Homo sapiens: one gene and its partners. The main gene of each other region encodes a partner of the protein of the gene in region 3 in a complex. Each region holds a gene or a part of one and is shown on either strand. Other genes may lie near its edges. The genes, in order: ZNF541, DNTTIP1 and SAP30.

Region 1 (7,120 bases), on a different chromosome or scaffold from region 3:
GTCACCCACAATCTCGCCCTCCCCCCAGGGCCTGGCAGCCACGAGTCTCCTTTCTGTCTCTGTGGATGTGTCTGTTCTGGACATTGCATATGAGTGGAATCATGCACTCTGTGGCATTCGTATCTGGCTTCCTTCACTCAGCATGACGTTTTCCAGGCTCATCCGTGGGGTGGCAAACGGCAGAGCTGCATTCCTTTCCATGACTGAGTGATCCTCTGTTGGATGGATAAGGCCGCGTTTTATTTGTCTGTTCATCAGTGGATGGACATTTGGGTTGTTTCCACTTTTTGGCTATTTTGAATATGGTGCTGCTGTGAATATTCACCCATGTACAAATTTTTATGGGGATTTATGTTCTAGGAGTAGAATCGCCAGGTCGTACAGCAGTTCTGTTTTAGGTCTGAGGAACTACTAGGCTGTTTTGCTTGTTTCCTCTTCCCACCCACAGTGTATGAGGGCTCCACATTCTCCATGTCCTCACTAACACTTGTTATTGTCCGTGGTTTGTTTAAATTATAACTACCCTGGCGGGTGTGAAGCAGTATCTCATTGTGGTTTTGATTTGTATTTCCCCGTGGCTGCTGACGTTGAACACCTTTCTGTGTTCTTATTGGCCATCTGTGTATCTTTCTAGAAGAAATGTCTGTTCAGGTCCTTTGCTTATTTTTTAAAATCAGATTACTATTTTTTGAGTTCTCTATATATTCTGGATGCAAGACCCTTATCTGACACATGACTTGCAAATATTCTTTCATTTTGTGGTCTGTCTTTTCACTTTATTTATGATACCATTTGCAGGACAAAAGTTTTTATTTTTTATTTTTTATTTTTTTTTGAGACAGGGTCTCACTGTCACTCAGGCTGGAGTGAAGTTGTACGATCATGGCTCACTGCAACCTTGAACTCCTGGCTCAAGTGATTCTCCCACCTCAGCCTCCTGAGTCGCTGGGACCTCAGGCCCATGCCAGTATGCCAGGCCAATTTTTGTATTTTTTGTAGAGATGGGGTTTTGCCATGTTGCCCAGGCTGGTCTCAAACTCCTGGGCTGAAGCAATCCTCCCACCTCGGCCTCCCAAAGTCCTGGGATCACAGGCATGAGCCACCACGCCTGGCTAAAAGTTTTACATTTTGATGAAGTCTAATTTGTCTGTTTTGCTTTGGTGTCTTATCTAAGAAACCACTGTCTAATCCAAGGTCATGAAGATTTACTCTGATGTTTTCTTCTAAAAGTCTGTAATTTGAGCTCTTCTTGCCTCTTCATTTTGGATGTGTTGGTTCAGATGCATTTTCATCTTCAGGGTGGAAACATCTACAGGCTCCCCCATCCGGTGAAGGAAGAGAATGTGGCAGGCAGAGGGTAAGTTAAGAAGCCCCCGATCCTGCATGCACCCTGGCAGGAGTCCTCTGGCCTTCCTGTGCCGGCCCTGGACAAGTGAGTGGGGAGGATGCTTTCAGTCCTAATGGGATTAGGGTACAGCCTCCATTTTATAGGGTTTATCAAGAGTAGTCAGGCTGGACGCGGTGGCTCACGCCTGTAATCCCAGCACTTCAGGAGGCTGAGGCAGGGGGATCATTTGAGGTCAGGAATTCGAGACCAGCCTGGCCAACATGGTGAAACTCTGTCTCTACTAGAAATATAAAAATTAGCCACGTATATTGGCACACACCTGTAATCTTAGCTACTTGGGAGGCTGAGGCACGAAAATCACTTGAACCCAGGAGGTGGAGGTTACAGTGAGCCGAGATGGTGCCACCGCACTCCAGTCTGGGCAACAGAGTGAGACTCCATCTCCAAAAAAAAAAAAAAGTCAGTGGATTGGAGTTATAGACAAAAAAGAAAAAAAAACAACAAAAAATCAGTGATCAAGGACAGAGTCCTAATCTCCCACTCTTCTTTCCTGCCATGTCCCACAGTAACCAGCAAAACGGCAGTCCCACAGACTGGACGAAGCCCAGGAGCACTTTTGTCTGCAAGAACTGCAGCCAGATGTTTTATACGGAGAAAGGGCTGAGCAGCCACATGTGTTTTCACAGCGACCAGTGGCCGTCACCTCGAGGGAAGCAGGAACCGCAGGTGAAGGGGGACGACCAGTGGCTTGGTGGTTACTGGGTTTCTGGCAGGCCTGTGGGGAGTAAACGAGATTGGTGTCACTTATCTCAGGATGGGGACGTCACTCTGGGTCGGGGGCTGGAGTCAGGCTGTGTGGCTCTCCAGGGGCAGGCCATTGCCATGGGCTGCAGCAGCTCTCCAGCTTGGTCCATGCCACAGACTCACTGCTGTTTTCTATGACAGCTTTTTTTGCTGAAGCAGCTCTTCCTTTCCCCACCTACCTTATCTCTTAAAGAGCCATCTCTTCTCTTCTGTGTTTAGGTGTTTGGCACAGAGTTTTGCAAGCCGCTAAGACAGGTGCTGAGGCCAGAAGGGGACAGGCATAGTCCCCCAGGAACCAAGAAGCCCTTGGACCCCACAGCTGCAGCCCCTTTGGTGGTCCCCCAATCGATCCCCGTGGTTCCAGTGACCCGACACATAGGGAGCATGGCCATGGTGGGTGCTTGTCGGCCTGCCTCCTTCCTGCCACTGCCCGCAGCTGCTGGGGGAAGCCGTAGGAAAAACCCAAACCAGATACCACAGAAAATCTTTGACTCCAGGCTGGATGTGGTGGCTCATGCCTGTAATCCCAGCACTTTGGGAGGCTGAGGCGGGTGGATTGCCTGAGCTCAGGTATTCGAGACCAGCCTGGGCAACATGGTGAAACCCTGTGTCTACTAAAAATACAAAAAAATTAGCTGGGCATGGTGGCAGGCACCTGTAAACCCAGCTACTCGGGAGGCTGAGGCCCGAGAATCACTTGAACCCAGGAAGGAGAGGTTGCAGTGAGCTGAGATCACAACACTGCACTCTAGCCTGGGTAACAGAGTGAGACTCTGTCTCAAAAAAAAAAAAAAAAAAAAGAAAATCTTGATCCAGAAGAACCTGGTTTGCATGTTAATTCAGTCATTCAGCATTCACTGAGCCCCTCTGTGCCAGGCCCTGTGCTGGGTGGTGCTGGGGACACAGAGGTGACCACAATAGCCTGGGCCCTGCCTCCCAGGGCTCCTAGTCCAGTGGAGGAGACAGGCCTGTCCCCAGACAGTGACAACCCAGAGTGGGCAGAGCTGGGAGCAGAGGGAGCCCAGAGAGTTCCCAGGGGGCTCCTGACCCAGCCTGAGGAGGTAAGGGAGGGCTTCCTGGAGGAGGAGGTATGGGATCTGAGACCTAGAGGATGAGGAGGAGTAGGGCTGGCAGAGCGGAGAGGAGATTTTGTGGAAGTGAGAGAGAGCATGGTGAGTTACGAGTGATCAGTCTCGTAGGGCTTGTCTCTGCAGCCTGTACTGGAGGACCCCCTACTGAAGAAGCTCCTGCTGGACTCGGGGACACAGTCCGTGGACCTGAAGGTCCCCTGAGTCAGTGGCTGGGTCATTTCGGTGCTTGTCATTTGGGTGGAGCAGCATTTCTTTCTTCACCGTCACACTGTATCTCTGGGGATCTCTCTCTTTTTAAGGGCCAGTCATCTTAATGATTGAGGCTATTCTTACACAGAGTCAGGGGCTCTGCTGGGGCAGTGGGTGCAGGAGAAGGCTGCAGCCGGATCATCGCCAGGCTCAGTACGTCAGGTCTGGCTCAGGTGTGGCCAGCCTCCTTTGCCGGGCGTGCATTTCCTAGTTTCCTGTCTCTGGCCGGTCTCCTTTTCCTGCTCTCTTTCCATCCTGGAGATGGAGTGGTGCAGTAGGTGGCTTCAGGCGACCACCTGTGGTTCTAAACTTCTTCAGGGACAAGAGAAAGACGGGGAGGAGCGAGACAGCAAGGAGAGCAGCCAGCAGAGAAAGCGGAAGAAGCGGCCCCCACCCTCCACGGCTGGGGAGCCTGGCCCTGCAGGATGCCACCAGAGCCGCCTGCGGTCACCCATGTTCCTGGTGGACTGCCTCCTGAAGGGCTTATTCCAGTGCTCCCCCTACACACCACCCCCAATGCTCAGCCCCATCCGGGAGGGCTCTGGGGTGTACTTCAACACCCTCTGTTCCACGTCCACTCAGGCCAGCCCTGACCAGCTCATCAGCTCCATGCTCGGTGAGTGAGGCTGGGGCACTCACTCTGTGATCCCAGGGTGGATTGCCTGCGGACCACAGCCACTCTACCTTGTAGCATTGGGTTCAGTGATTGTCTCCTGCCTGGGTGTACCTAGTCTGAGGGTTCCTTTGCTATTCAGATGTGCCCCAGGACTGATCTAAGTGCCTTCTAGTGCATAGAATTTTACAGCCCGAAAGAAAACGTAGAGGCCATTTAGCCTGACCATGCTTCTGCCTGCCCTTCTGTGTCATTTTCTTTTTCTTTTTTGAGGCAGGGTCTTGCTCTGTCACCCAGGCTGGAGTGCAGTGGCTTGATCACAGCTCACTGCAGCCTCGATCTCCTGGTCTCAAGAGATCCTCCAGCCTCAGACTCCCAAATAGTTGGGACTACAGGTGCGCATCACCACACCTGGCTAATTTTTTATTTTTCTTAGAGATGGGGTCTTGCTATGTTGTCCAGGCTGGTCTCGAGCTCCTGGACTTGTGATTTTGCTGCCTTGACCTCCCAAAGTACTGGCATTAAATGTGTGAGCCACCCTGTCCAGTCTGTGTCATTTCCTTTTTTTTTTTTTTTTTTTTGAGACAGAGTATCACTCTATCACCCAGGCCAGAGTGCAGTGGCGTGATCTTGGCTGACTGAAACCTCCAACTCCCAAGTTCAAGCAGTTCTCCTGCCTCAGCCTCCCAAGTAGCTGGGACTACAGGCGTGCGCCATCATGCCTGGCTAATTTTTGTATTTTTAGTAGAGATGGGATTTCACCATGTTGGCCAGGCTGGTCTCGAGCTCCTGACTTCCAGTGATCCACCCTCCTCAGCCTCCCAAAGTGCTGGGATTACAGGTGTGAGCCACTGTGCCTGGCCTGGCCTATGTAATTTTCCTAACAGATTTATTGAGCTGTACTTCACATACCATGCAAATCACCCATTTAGAGTATGCAGTGATTTTTAGGATATTCACAAGGCCGTGCAACTATCACATAGTCTTAATTTTAGAGCACGCTTAGCATCCCCAGAAGAAGCCAGAGCTCATTAGCAGTGACTCCGCCCATATCCCCACAGTCCCTTCTTCCCCCAGCCTGGGCACCCACTCATCTGCCTTCTCTCTTTGGATTTGCCTATTCAGGACATTTCATGTAAGTAGAATCATACAATATGCAGCCTTTTGTGTCTAGTTTATTTCACTTGGCATGTTTTCAGAGTCCCTTCATATTGTAGTGCATATCAGTGCTCAATTCCTTTTTATGGCCGAACATTTTTCCCTTGTACAGATGGGCCCCATTTTGTTTATTTATCAGTTGATGGACATTTGGGTTGTTTCCACTTTGGGCTATTATGAATAATGCTGCCATAAACATTCATATAGAAATTTTTGGGGTTTTTTTGGGAGACAAGGTCTCACTCTTGTCACCCAGGCTGGAGTGCAGTTGTATGATCACAGCTCACTGCAGCTTCAACCTCCTGGGCTCAACTGATCCTTCTGCTTCGGCCCAGAGTAGCTGGGCCTACAGGCATGCACCCCCATGCCTGGCTAATTTTTTGTAATTGTTTTTATGTAGGGAGGGGGGTCTTGCCATGTTGCCCAGACTGGTCTCAAACTCTGAGGTGGGCCAGGCATGGTGGCTCATGCCTGTAATCCTAGCACTTTGGGAGGCTGGGGCGGGTGGATCACCTAAGGTCAGGAGTTCAAGACCAGGCTGGCCAACATGGCAAAACCTCGTCTCTACTAAAAATATAAAAATTAGACGAGCATGGTGGCGGGTGCCTATAATCCTGGCCACTCAGGAGGCTGAGGCAGGAGAATCGCTTGAACTGAGGGTGCAGTGTTGGGAACAGGCCCCCCAAAATCTGGCCATAAACTGGCCCCAAAACTGGCCATAAACAAAATCTCTGCAGCACTGTGACATGTTCATAATGGCCATGACACCCACGCTGGAAGGTTGTGGATTTACCGGAATGAGGGCAAGGAACACCTGGCCGACCCAGGGCAGAAAACTGCTTAAAGGCGTTCTTAAACCACAAACAATAGCATGAGCGATCTGTGCCTTAAGGACATGCACCTGCTGCAGATAACTAGCCAGACATATCCCTATATTTTGGCCCATCCCTTTGTTTCCTGTAAGGAATACTTTTAATTGATCTATAATCTATAGAAACAATGCTTATCACTGGCTTGCTGTCAATAAATATGTGGGTAAATCTCTGTTCAGGGCTCTTAGCTCTGAAAGCTGTGAGACCCCTGATTTCCCACTCCACTCCTCTATATTTCTGTGTGTGTCTTTAATTCCTCTAGCGCCGCTGGGTTAGGGTCTCCCCGACCGAGCTGGTCTCGGCAGCGGAGGTTGCAGTAAGCCGAGACCATGCCATTTCACTTTAGCCTGGGCGAAAGAGCTAAATTTGGTCTCAAAAAAAAAAAAACAACTCTGGGGTGAAACAGTCCTCCTGCATTGGCCTTCCAAAGTGCTGGGATTAGAGGCCTGAGCCACCACACCCAGCCTTATGTACAGGTTTTTGTGTGGATTTATGTTCTCAGCTCTCTTGGGTAGATAACTAGGAGTGTAGTGCTGGGTCATATGGTAACTCCATATTTAACTGTTTACAAACTGCCGGATTGTTTTCCAAAATGGCTGGGCCACTTTAAATTTCCAGTAGCAGTATATGAACATTTTCATTTCTCCTCCTTCTTGTCAACACTTGTTATTGTCTATCTTTTTAAGTATAACCATCCTAGTAGGTGTAAAGTGGTCCTTTTGCAGGACAAACATTTCTAATTTTCATGAAGCCCAATTTCCTTTCTTTTGTTACTTGTTCTTGTGGTGTTATATGTGAAGATTTGCCTGACCCAAGTCATGCAGAGTCACTCTTGTTTCCCTGTAAGAGTTTTGTAATTTTGGTCCAGGTGCGGTGGCTCACGCCTGTAATGCCAGCACTTTGGGAAGCCGAGGCAGGCGGATCACGAGGTCAGGAGCTCAAGACCAGCCTGGCCAACATGGTGAAATCCCGTCTCTACTAAAAA
Region 2 (7,227 bases), on a different chromosome or scaffold from region 3:
TGTGCATATTTGAGAAATAAACAAGCAGACCAAACAGACCATGAGGTGTGGGGACAGCGTTTCTTACCCAGCTTCTGTTTAGAGATTGGGACTACACAGCTCTTGTTGCAGCCAAGCGTGCAGCATTTCTTTACACCTGGACATGTCTCATCAGTGATGCACCTTTTCAAACAGGATTGTTTCCGAATAACCCTAGGGCAATCTCTTTTCCTCCCTGTAGCAAAAAGGGAGACAGCAAAGAAAAGAGAAAATAGGCCGAGCGCCATGGCTCACACCTGTAATCCCAGCACTTTGGGAGGCCAAGGCGGGTGGATCACCTGAGGTAGGGAGTTCGAGAACAGCCTGGCCAACATGGAGAAACCCCATCTCTACTAAAAATACAAAATTAGTCGGGGGTGGTGGCACATGCCTGTAAATCCCAGCTACTTGGGAGGCTGAGGCAGGAGAATCACTTGAACCCGGGAGGCAGAGGTTGCGGTGAGCCGAGATCACGCCACTGCATTCTAGTCTGAGCAACAAGAGCGAAACTCCGTCTCAAAAAAAAAAGAGAGAGAGAGAGAGAAAATAGTGCCTGGCAACACCCACGGGCACAGCAGAAGGGAAAAACAGAAAAAGGAAGTCCTGAGATTTATTTAAGCCTCTCAACCCTGGTGCTAAGACAAAGAGACAATAATAACAACAATAGTAATAGCAAATATTTACTGTAACATTTACTGACGTTTACCTTGTGCCATGAACATCTTATTTGATCCTCACAATTATCCCCATTTTATAGATGAGGAAACTGAGGCTAAAAGCTTAAGATTTATAAAGAGCTAAGGCTTAAGGCTTAAAAAGGTCTGCTTGGCTCTAGGGTCTACTCTCTTAATCATTATCTTACACAGCCTTCCCTTTACAACTCTTCCCTCCAGCCTTCACAGGAACTTTGAGTCCAAAGTAAAAGACATAGATAATCAATGGTGCGCTCTTTCCTGATGGAAGGCAAACAACTGGGGGCACTGAATAATTAAAGGAGGAGGGACCCTAAAAGAGTAAAGAAGAAGTACTCTAGGCAAGGGAGACTTCCAGAGGCAACCTAGAAGGTGGGAAGCTCTCTACTTCCATCTATCCCAGAGGCAATGTCAGAGAGTATGCCCAGATTTTGCCCCTCATGCCAACATACCCTTAGGAATGTCTCGGCAGATCCGACCACAGCCTGTGGTGCAGCACTTCTGTTCAGCCGGACACAATTCATCACCCTGGCACAGCTCTTTGCATGGGTTCTTATGGGGAGGGCATTCTCCCTCTTTTGCTGCAAAAGATACTATTTGAGTTTGGGGTAACTAGCCAGGCCTCAGAAATGGGGAATGGACCTTCAGCCCCTCCAGGCATCTCTATCCAAAATATTTCTGCACCACTGCACTCTAGCCTGGGTGACAGAATGAGACCCTGTCTCTTAAAAAAAAAAAAAAATTCTGGCTGGGCACGATAGCTCATGCCTGTAATCCCAGCACTTTGGGAGGCCGAGGCGGGCGGATCATGAGGTCAGGAGATCGAGATCATCCTGGCTAACACAGTGAAACCCCATCTCTACTAAAAATACAAAAAATTAGCTGGGCGTGGCGGCGGGCACCTGTAGTCCCAGCTACTCGGGAGGCTGAGGCAGGAGAATGGCGTGAACCTGGGAGGTGGAGTTTGCAGTGAGCTGAGATCACGCCACTGCACTCCAGCCTGGGTGACAGAGTGAGACTCCATCTCAAAAAAAAAAAAAAAATTCTGCAACCACCTTCCCCTCCTCATACACAAATACTAACATATATCCACCACTGCTAAAGGAGCAGCCATCCTGCAGATAACGAGAGAGAAAGGGTGGGATGATCCTGTTCTCATTTAATGAGTTCTAGGGAAAAGCTAGAACCTCTAGTAAGCCCAACTGGAAGTCCTATCTCCTTGTCCAGAGAGGGTAAAGAAAGCCAGGAAGAATGACCCAGGCCATCCTGAGAATCTATTCATCCAGTCCTGTCCTATAGAGATGATCATCTCCACTTACAAGCAACCTTGCTCTGGGAGAAGGCAGGGGATGAGTTCTCCTCTCCTCTAGTCACTTTCTGTTACTGTTGGCCAGGGATCCCAAATGATAGCTCACCATGTTCTCCTGCAGTTATCCAGGATTCCAGAGACCCAAGAGCAAGAAGTGCCTTCAGAAGAAAGAGGCAGCTTAACATCATGATGATGCTGAGAGTTGGGACAAGAGCTCAGTTCAGGCTAGAGGTGTACACCTTGCCCAGAGTATCAGCTGAGGTATGAGCAGGACTAGGGATGGCCCCAAACCCAGTCCCAAAACCTTCCCTTTCACAATACTCCCCAAGAATATCTTCTCCTGACAAGAAGAAGAGGGATTGGCTGCTGGAGTGTGGGAAAATTCCTGGCACTACCAAAGGGGACCTGTGATGGGAGGATCAAATTCTGTAAGCAATATACACAATATTCCTGGATGATGAGAAACCTAGTGGGTGGCTGGAAAAATGGAGGGGTGGCCATTGGAAAAAGAATCAAAGAGAGCCCTAAAGGGCATTGGAAGGACATGGCTTTAGCCCAAATAACAGAGGGAGGGATTCACGACACTACTTAATGGCCAAAGCTAATAACATAACCAAGCATAATAAAATTGTGGCTCCTGTTCATCCTAGCAACCAAGAAAATACAGAATGGAACAGACCACTCAGAAACTATCAAATAGGCCAAGGCGGGCAGATCACCTGAGGTCAGGAGTTTGAGACCAGCCTGGCCAACATGGCGAAACCCTGTCTCTACTAAAAATACAAAAATCAGCTGGGCATGCTGGTGCATGCCTGTAATCCCAGCTACGTGGGAGGCTGAGGCAGGAGAATAGCTTGAACCCAGGAGGCAGAGGTTGCAGTGAGTGGAGATCATGCCACTGCACTCCAGCTTGGGTAACAGAGTGAGACTCTGTCTCAAAAAAAAAAAAAAGAGAGAAAAGAAACTATCAAAAACCTACAGAAAAGCAGTAGTTGAGTTTGTTAAGAACTAATGAAAAGCACCAAACACCTACATCTTTGTCCCTCTAACCCACACAGGCCATTCTTGGACTGTATGAAGTCTAGCTGGCAGAACCCAAGAGAAGTTGCTATGTATGACTCAAATAGTCTGCCCACATATACCTCCTTTATTTCTTTTTTCTCCATTTCTTTTTTTCTTTATCTGTCCTGGTCATGCCTTTGGTTAGCTGTGATACCTAATGGTGTCCACTGGCACTGCTTAGTCCTATGGGCAGGTACAAGGTAAAACCTCCTTAATAGGATCAAAAAGTTTGGAGCCAGGAAGTCGCCCTTATGGTTAGAAGGCTGATGTTGGCTCATGGAGATAATTAACATTTGATGATGACCTCATATGTGCCTAATATGCTTTTTTTTTTTTTTTTTTTTTTTTTTTTGAGACAGAGTCTCCCTCTGTCCCCCAGGCTGGAATGCAGTGGCGCGATCTCGGCATAATTAACATTTGATGATGACCTAACATGTGCCTAATGTGCTTTTTTTTTTTTTTTTTTTGAGACAGTCTCCCTCTGTCGCCCAGGCTGGAGTGCAGTGGCGTGATCTCGGCTCACTGCAACCTCCGCCTCCTGGGTTCAAGAGACTCTCCTGCCTCAGCCTCCCGAGTAGCTGGGATTACAGGTGCCCACCACCACGCCCGGCTAATTTTTATATTTTTAGTAGAGACGGGGTTTCGCCATGTTGGCCAGGCTGGTCTCGAACTCCTGATGGCAAGTGATCCTCCCGCCTCGGCCTCCCAAAGTGCTGGGATTACAGGCGTGAGCCACCGCCCCTGGCCGAGCATATTAAAATCTAGTTTTCAAAAACTGAACTGCAGGCGCCGCTGTACCAAACGCTTCCCTCTGCTCCCCAACCCCAGCCTACAGAAAACTGGTCCCTTCCTCCTACCCCGCAGTCATCCCCAGGCCTTGGCCCAGCGGGAAACATCCCTTGACTGAACCGCCACTGAACACCCACACTGCACAATCGAGGCGCAGCCCTCCCGAGAGGAAGCCCCAACGACCTCCACCTACAAGGCCTCTAAGTGTAACTGTCCTGGGCGAGGCGCGGCGGTTCGGTTCCCATGGTAACCCCGCAGCTCCAGCGTCGCGCTTCCGGGCGGACGAGCAGCGCGCTCCAGTGACGTCACGGCGCCACTTTCCGGCCGGTGACAGAGTCCAGCGGAGTTGTGGGGGCCGGGGGCGCCATGGGAGCCACTGGCGACGCCGAGCAGCCGCGGGGACCTAGCGGGGCCGAGAGGGGCGGCTTGGAGCTGGGGGATGCGGGCGCAGCGGGGCAGCTGGTTCTTACGGTGAGGGCGCCCCCGGTGAGGTCTGGGCTCAGGCCGGGCACGGCCTCGGGGCTCCTGGGACCCTGGCCCGCGGGCGAGAGAACGCGGAGGCTGGAGCTGCAGAGGGGGTTGGCGTTTTCGCAGCCCGACGACCTGGATTTAAATTCTGGTGCCGCCCTCCTAGCTAGGTGACGTGGGCCATCTCTGTCAACCCCCTGAGTCCCAGGATCCTCTTCTATAAAATGGAAATGATTAGTACCTGTCTCATAAAACTTGTTGTGGGATGGGAAGATAAAGGCGGGTACAACGCCCCGGACATCACCTGACACAGAGTTGACCCTCGGTAAATACTGCTTCCCTTCCTCCTGCCGTGCCAGAAGGCAGGGTCGGGACTTTTAAGGCAGGAAACTTCCTCAGTTCCTCTTTTGTGGAGGAGGCCTTACAACTATCGTCCCACCCCAAGGCGGGAGAGATGGTGACGGATCTGAGAAGCAGGGATGTCCAGGTTTAACTTCATACCCACCCTCCACCTCCACCCCACCCCAGTGTCACAGGCCGCAGTGACATTTGTTCCGTTGGTCCCCACAGAACCCTTGGAACATAATGATAAAGCACCGGCAGGTGCAGCGGAGGGGCCGCCGCTCACAGATGACAACAAGGTAAGGCTGGCCCTGCATGGGGCTTATATCCCAGCCACTGGCTTGCATGGCAGATTTGGGATCCCCAGTGCACAAGGCTATGGAGATCTACAGCCGGTAGAAAGAGCACAGGACTGAGGAAGAGGAGACTCCGATTCTGTAACTCTGTGTGATCTTGAACTAGTCAAGTCACTTCCTTCTCTGAACTCACGTACAAAATGGGGAAGGGCACAGGAGATGGGTTGTGGAATAAACAATACCTAAGATCCCTCACATTCACTGGCTCTGTGGTTGAGGGCTCTAAAGAGGTCAGTTAGCATGGAGTTTAAGAGAACAGGCTCTGGAGTCAGACAACTGTGTTCTCATCAACAGACTCTGATGAGCCCGTTTTCTCAACTATAAAGAGGGATTAATAGTATGCATGTCAGGGAAGGGAGAGAGCACAAGGTGGGCCTTTGGGATGCTGATAGTGGTGAAATGGATGTTCACTATAATTACTCATTAAAGTGTATAGACTTTTCTGTATAAGTATTATATTTCATAAAAACACTTTGGGCCGGGCGCGGTGGCTCACGCCTGTAATCCCAGCACTTTGGGAGGCTGAGGTGGGTGGATCACCTGAGGTCGGGACTTCCAGAACAGCCTGACCAACATGGAGAAACCCCGTCTCTACTAAAAATAACAAAAAATTGGCCGGGCGCGGTGGCTCACGCCTGTAATCCCAGCACTTTGGGAGTCTGAGGCGGGCAGATCACCTGAGGTTGGGAGTTCGAGACCAGCCTGACCAAAATGGAGAAACCCGGTCTCTACTAAAAATACAAAAATTAGCCGGGCGTGGTGGTGCACACCTGTAATCCCAGCTACTAAGGAGGCTGAGGCAGGAGAATTGCTTGAACCCAGGAGGCAGAGGTTGCAGTGAGCCAAAACCACGCCACTGCACTCCAGCCTGGGCAACAGAGTGAGACTCCGTCTCAAAAAAAAAAACTTTGAAAATAATATGCACTTCATAGAGTTATTATGAGAAAGAAATAAAGTCATGCCTCTGTGATTTGCACAAAATCTGAGCATGTAGCTAGTTTTCAATAAAAGCTGTCTAGTATTGTTAAGGAATTCTATGTCCATAATTAACTGGGGAGGCTGGGAAAGAATATGTTTGGGACATGCCCCCTCACCCTGTCTCCCTCCTGAATGCAGTTTCACAGATCCTGCCATCTCCATGGATCTCCTCCGAGCTGTCCTGCAGCCCAGCATCAACGAGGAGATCCAGACTGTCTTCAACAAGTACATGAAGGTGAGAGGGACACAGGATAAAAAATAACAGGAGAAAGACTCATGAGGAGCCCAGTCCTTGCCTGCATCACCAGTCTGTCTCTTTCCTACATACAGATATCTAAAGTTTTCCTTTCTTGTTGTTTTTGTTTTGTTTTGTTTTGTGTTTTTGAGACAGATTCTCACTCTGTCACCCAGGCTGGAGTGCAGTGGCACAATATCGATTCACCGCAACCTCCACTTCCCAGGTTCCAGCGATTCTCATGCCTCAGCCTCCCTAGTGGCTGGGATTACAGGTGCCCACCACCTTGCAGGGCTAATTTTTGTATTTTTAGTAGAGACGGGGTTTCACTGTTGGCCAGGCTGGTCTCGAACTCCTGACCTCAAATGATTTGCCTGCCTTGGCCTCCCAAAGTGCTGGGATTATAGGTGTGAGCCAGGGCACCTGGTCAGTTTTCAAATTTTTAATCCCCCAAGAATTTTATTCCCTCCTTGAGGGTAATTCAGATACCTTTTTTTTTTAAAATCTGCCCTTGTCACGCACGTGGTTTTTTTTGCTGACCTCTTATAAGGATGAAGTGACTTAAATGTACTGTGCTGAGCACTGTGCTCCAGACATAACAAGTGTCCAATAAGTATTCTTATTAGTTGTTTAATAATATAACCATTATTGGGGCCATGCACAGTGGCTCACACCTGCAACCCCAGCACTTTGGGAGGCCGAGGCAGGATCACTTGAGGCCAGGAGTTTGAGAACAGCCTGGGCAACACAGTGGGACCTCATCTCTACTAAAAAAAAAAAAAAATTTTTTTTTTTTTTTTTGAGACAGAGTCTCACTCTGTCGCCAGGCTGGAGTGCAGTGGCACGGTCTTGGCTCACTGCAACCTCCGCCTCCTGGGTTCAAGCAGTTCTCTGCCCCAGCCTCCCAAGTAGCTGGGATTACAGGCATCCGCCACCACGCCCAGCTAATTTTTTGTATTTTTAGTAGAGACGGGGTTT
Region 3 (4,199 bases):
AGTAAATTTTATTGTGCTGAAGTTAAAATGTTTGTTATTATACATATCAATGATAAATTTTCAACAAATTGTATGAACTCATTTATACATGTTAATTTTTTCTAGGTTGATTTATACCAATTACAAGTAAATACACTTAGGAGATACAAAAGACACTTCAAGCTACCAACCAGACCAGGACTTAATAAAGCACAACTTGTTGAGGTATATATGAGTTTTAAACTATTTGAACTATCTGCACAACCGAGAGGTTATTAAGTGCTAATGGAAGTTTTAATGTAGTGTATGTAACAGTACATTTTAATTAGAAAGAACAAAGTTAAAAAATCTGTTGTGGAAGAATCTAGTTGTGTAGAAATGTTTGTCTGCCACTTAGGAAATTCCTTTTTGTAATGACTGCTTAGTAGATTGTGTACAGCACCTTCTGATACTGGCTTTCAAAATGTGTTGATTGTTTTTTGAGACAGAATCTCACTCTGTCACCCAGGCTGGAGTGCAGTGGCATGATCTTGGCTCATTGAAACCTCTACCTACCAGGTTCAAGCAATTCTCCAGCCTCAGCCTCCCAAGTACCTGGGACTTCAGGTGTGCACCACCACACCAGGCTAATTTTTGTATAATATTTTTAGTAGAGATAGGGTTTCACCATGTTGGCCAGACTTGTTTCAAACTCCTGACTTCAAGTGATCTGCCCACCTCAGCCTACCAGAGTGCTGGGATTACCAGTGTGAGCCACCGTGCCTGGCCCTCAAAATGTTGAATGAGAGTTTTTTTAATCCTCACTTTAGAAATCTATTAATTTTAAAACTCCGTTTAACCAGTAAACATTTGAGCACCTAATTGAGGCATAATAAAATTAATTAACAAGCTTTAATGTCCTTATTAGAATTTATATTTTAAAGTGGTGGAATAGGCCTACAAATCAGACCCTAAACAGTATTTTTATAATTTGCTGACTTAACTATTTCAAAATTTGTCCTTGTTGATGTTTGTTTTATTAGAGACATCCATGTTTTTTTCACATCTAGAAGAGGCAAAAGCTTTTCTTTTACCCAAGCTTTTACTTGTAGTTTGCTTTGATAGAGGACTTCTAGTCAGTCACTGAGTTGTGAAAAGTTAACGGAGCATGCATATGTTTTCAGGATATAATAGAACCAAGAAATCTGTGCATCTTATTAAGATGTTTATAGATTTATATATATATATTTTAATCATATTTAAAATAAAAATTTTTACTTGCAGCTACTGAGGAGGATTGATTAAGCCTAGGAGTTTGAGTCACCATGGGCAACATAGCAACACTCCATCTCTAAAAAAAGAAAATTTGGCCTACTAGACAAAATAGAAGTGTAGAAATATAAATCAGTTTTCTCATATTCTTTGCATGGATTTAGTAGTTACCCAACATTTTCTAAAATGTGCCTATTGAATAAAATGAAATATGAATAGAAGTTACATTTATTTGGCAGAATGCTTTTTAACATTGTTAAAATCTAATATATTAACTATTTAGCTAAAATTTTTTATCCTTGGTTGGGCAACACAGATCTAATTAATTTTTCTTTAATTTTGATTTAAAAGATCAAGTTCTTTTGGGGTTGTACAATACATTAATGTAACATAAATATAGTTATTGCCCACCATGATGAAATATTTCAATAGGTACTAATGGAGTGAAGGCACCCCTGTTTTGGGACAAATGAGAACCAAAGAACTGATTATTTTAAATGTTATATTTAGGTATAAATTAAACCTGTAATTTTTGATAAACTGACCTTCTAAGAACAGTTATATTATTTCCAGAGCTATTTTCTTTTTTATACATAAGAGATAGCCATGAGTGTTATATTTTACTTAATCAGAAATGCAGATATTAGCAAGTTAAGGAATGTGCAGATGTAGTACATATATTTTAAGAGAGGGGTCCCCAACCCCAGGGCCATGGACTGGTACTGGTTGGTGGCCTGTTAGGAACGGGTCCGCAGAGCAGGAGGTGAGCACCAGCTAGCAAGCATTACTGCCTGAGCTCCGCCTCCTGTCAGATCAGCCACAGAATTAGATTCTCAGAGGAGTCCAAACCCTCTTGTGAAGTGCACATGTGAGGGATCTAGATTGTATGCTTGTTATAAGAATCTAATGCCTGATGATCTGAGGTGGAACAATTTCATACCAAAACCAACTCCGCCACCCTCAATCTGTGCAAAAATTGCCTTCCGTGAAATCTATCTCTGGTGCCAAAAAGGTTGGGGACCACTGTTTTAAGGGAATCCAGGGTTGTATGACTAAGTCTTAAGTCTCTTAATTATTGTGTGGATGAACTTTTTTCTTAAGAAATTTTATTTTCTGGAATCTAAATATGCATGTCAGCACCCCAGGTAAGTCTATTATTCTTCTATTAGTAATTGTAGTATGCATGTTATGTTAGCACAATGAAAAAGCAAGGAAGCAGGTAAACATCCTTCATTGAACATCCCTCTTTCTCCTCTCATTTCCATTCATAATTTTTATTCAGAAAAATTTTCAAGGAACCTTAACCAAAGAATGCTACCAAGGTGTGAATGAATGAATATAATTTGCAGCAAACAATTTATATGTTATTGTTGGTTTCTCTACTAGCAAAAGTTTTCAACTTCATACTTCTTTTTCTATCAGTAGAGTCTAAACCATTGCAGGTTTAATGATGCATGTGATCTCTTACGTCTGTTTTATCTCATTTAAAGTTTAAAAGTAAAATCATTTATTCCCTATTCTAGATTCTAATTATAAAATTTATTATTTTTATTTTATTTATTTATCTTTTTTTGAGACAGAGTCTTGCTCTGTTGCCCAGGCTGAAGTCCAGTGGCATGATCTCAGCTCACTGCAACCTCCACCTTCTGGGTTCAAGCAATCCTCCTGTCTAAGCCTTCTGAGTAGCTAGGATTACAGGTGTACACCACCAGGCCTATCTAATTTTTGTATTTTTTTTGGTAGAGATGGGGTTTCGTCATGTTGCTCAGGCTGGTCTCAAACTCCTGGGCTCAAGTGATCCACCCACCTCTGCCTCCCAAAGTGCTGGGATTACAGGCATGAGCCACCACGCCTGGCCCAATTATAAAATTTAAAATAAATAAAAGGAAAATATATTTTCTAATCAATGTATATTAAATTGAGTGGGTCAAAGGGTCCTTTGAAATCACACTATCTCTTGTTCGTAACATTTTATTCTTGAATGCTTTCTGTCTTGTTGATATTTTGTTAAATATAATTTTTAAAGGAAATAGCCCTTATCACATAGCACTTTTTCTTTTGATGAAACCGTATTTTTTACGTAGTTTATGAAACCTGTTATATCTAAAATTTAATTTCCTTAATTTTTCTTTTCTTTGTAGATAGTTGGTTGCCACTTTAGGTCTATTCCAGTGAATGAAAAAGACACCTTAACATATTTCATCTACTCAGTGAAGAATGACAAGAACAAATCAGATCTCAAGGTTGATAGTGGTGTTCACTAGGAGACGTGGAATTGAGACTAATAACTTGGATGTTAACACTGTTTACTGTTTTTTCACATGTAGAAATGTTCTTTGTGTATTTTTTCTACAGAGGATTTTCTCTGATTTTATTTTCTTTGTTTCTGACTCTAATAATTAGTTGGAAACTCATATAAAATGAGCTTTCCTAAATTAAATCTATTTTAAATAAAGGTTATTACTATTATAGTTGCTTCAGTGTATTTATTTTGTGAAACTTGATTTTTCTTTTAAACTGACTAAGAGATCAGTATTGAGATTTTAATGTAAAGTCCTTCATTTTGTAATCCTTTTTTTTTTTTTTTTTTAAACTTCCAAGAAATTAACAGGGTAAGGAGAAGTAACAAATGTAGCACATTTGCATTCTCTGGGACAATCTGACTTGGAAGTGAAGATAATCTAAATAGCATTATTTTTTAAAGTGCTTTATAGGGCTAGCAAATTTGAAAAATAAACTTCTCTTGGAATGCAACTTCTTTTTTATTTCCTTTTTTTTGTTATTATTACTTGATGAAGTACTAGGAAGAACAAATGGTTTAATTTATATACCCACCTCCTTCCAAAGAAGACTTAATGTGCCAGCAAAGATAAACACAATGCTGAAAGTTGAAATAAGAGTATAAAATTAAATAGCTGTTTTTCAAAATTTTGTCTTCGAGAAAAGATATTTATGTGGCATGAATATAG

Evidence for each region.
Region 1: SAP30 (region 3) and ZNF541 share a complex: the UniProt entries of both Homo sapiens proteins name them as parts of the histone deacetylase complex.
Region 2: SAP30 (region 3) and DNTTIP1 share a complex: the UniProt entries of both Homo sapiens proteins name them as parts of the histone deacetylase complex.

Annotation. Positions count from the first base shown.
Region 1 is NC_000019.10:47,535,130-47,542,249, reverse strand, and holds part of ZNF541 (zinc finger protein 541), read left to right. Parts: intron 1-1,298; coding exon 1,299-1,357; intron 1,358-1,914; coding exon 1,915-2,074; intron 2,075-2,371; coding exon 2,372-2,545; intron 2,546-3,810; coding exon 3,811-4,108; intron 4,109-7,120. UniProt on the Homo sapiens protein: Transcription regulator which is essential for male fertility and for the completion of meiotic prophase in spermatocytes.
Region 2 is NC_000020.11:45,787,769-45,794,995, forward strand, and holds the start of DNTTIP1 (deoxynucleotidyltransferase terminal-interacting protein 1), read left to right. Parts: upstream 1-4,185; 5' UTR 4,186-4,236; coding exon 4,237-4,341; intron 4,342-4,419; exon of another isoform or gene 4,420-4,508; intron 4,509-4,908; coding exon 4,909-4,979; intron 4,980-6,152; coding exon 6,153-6,249; intron 6,250-7,227. Other genes in the region: WFDC3 (WAP four-disulfide core domain protein 3), read right to left, coding at 68-214, 1,163-1,291, 2,126-2,214, 3,939-3,949. UniProt on the Homo sapiens protein: Increases DNTT terminal deoxynucleotidyltransferase activity (in vitro). Also acts as a transcriptional regulator, binding to the consensus sequence 5'-GNTGCATG-3' following an AT-tract.
Region 3 is NC_000004.12:173,373,834-173,378,032, forward strand, and holds the end of SAP30 (histone deacetylase complex subunit SAP30), read left to right. Parts: intron 1-105; coding exon 106-204; intron 205-3,371; coding exon 3,372-3,494; 3' UTR 3,495-3,699; downstream 3,700-4,199. UniProt on the Homo sapiens protein: Involved in the functional recruitment of the Sin3-histone deacetylase complex (HDAC) to a specific subset of N-CoR corepressor complexes. Capable of transcription repression by N-CoR.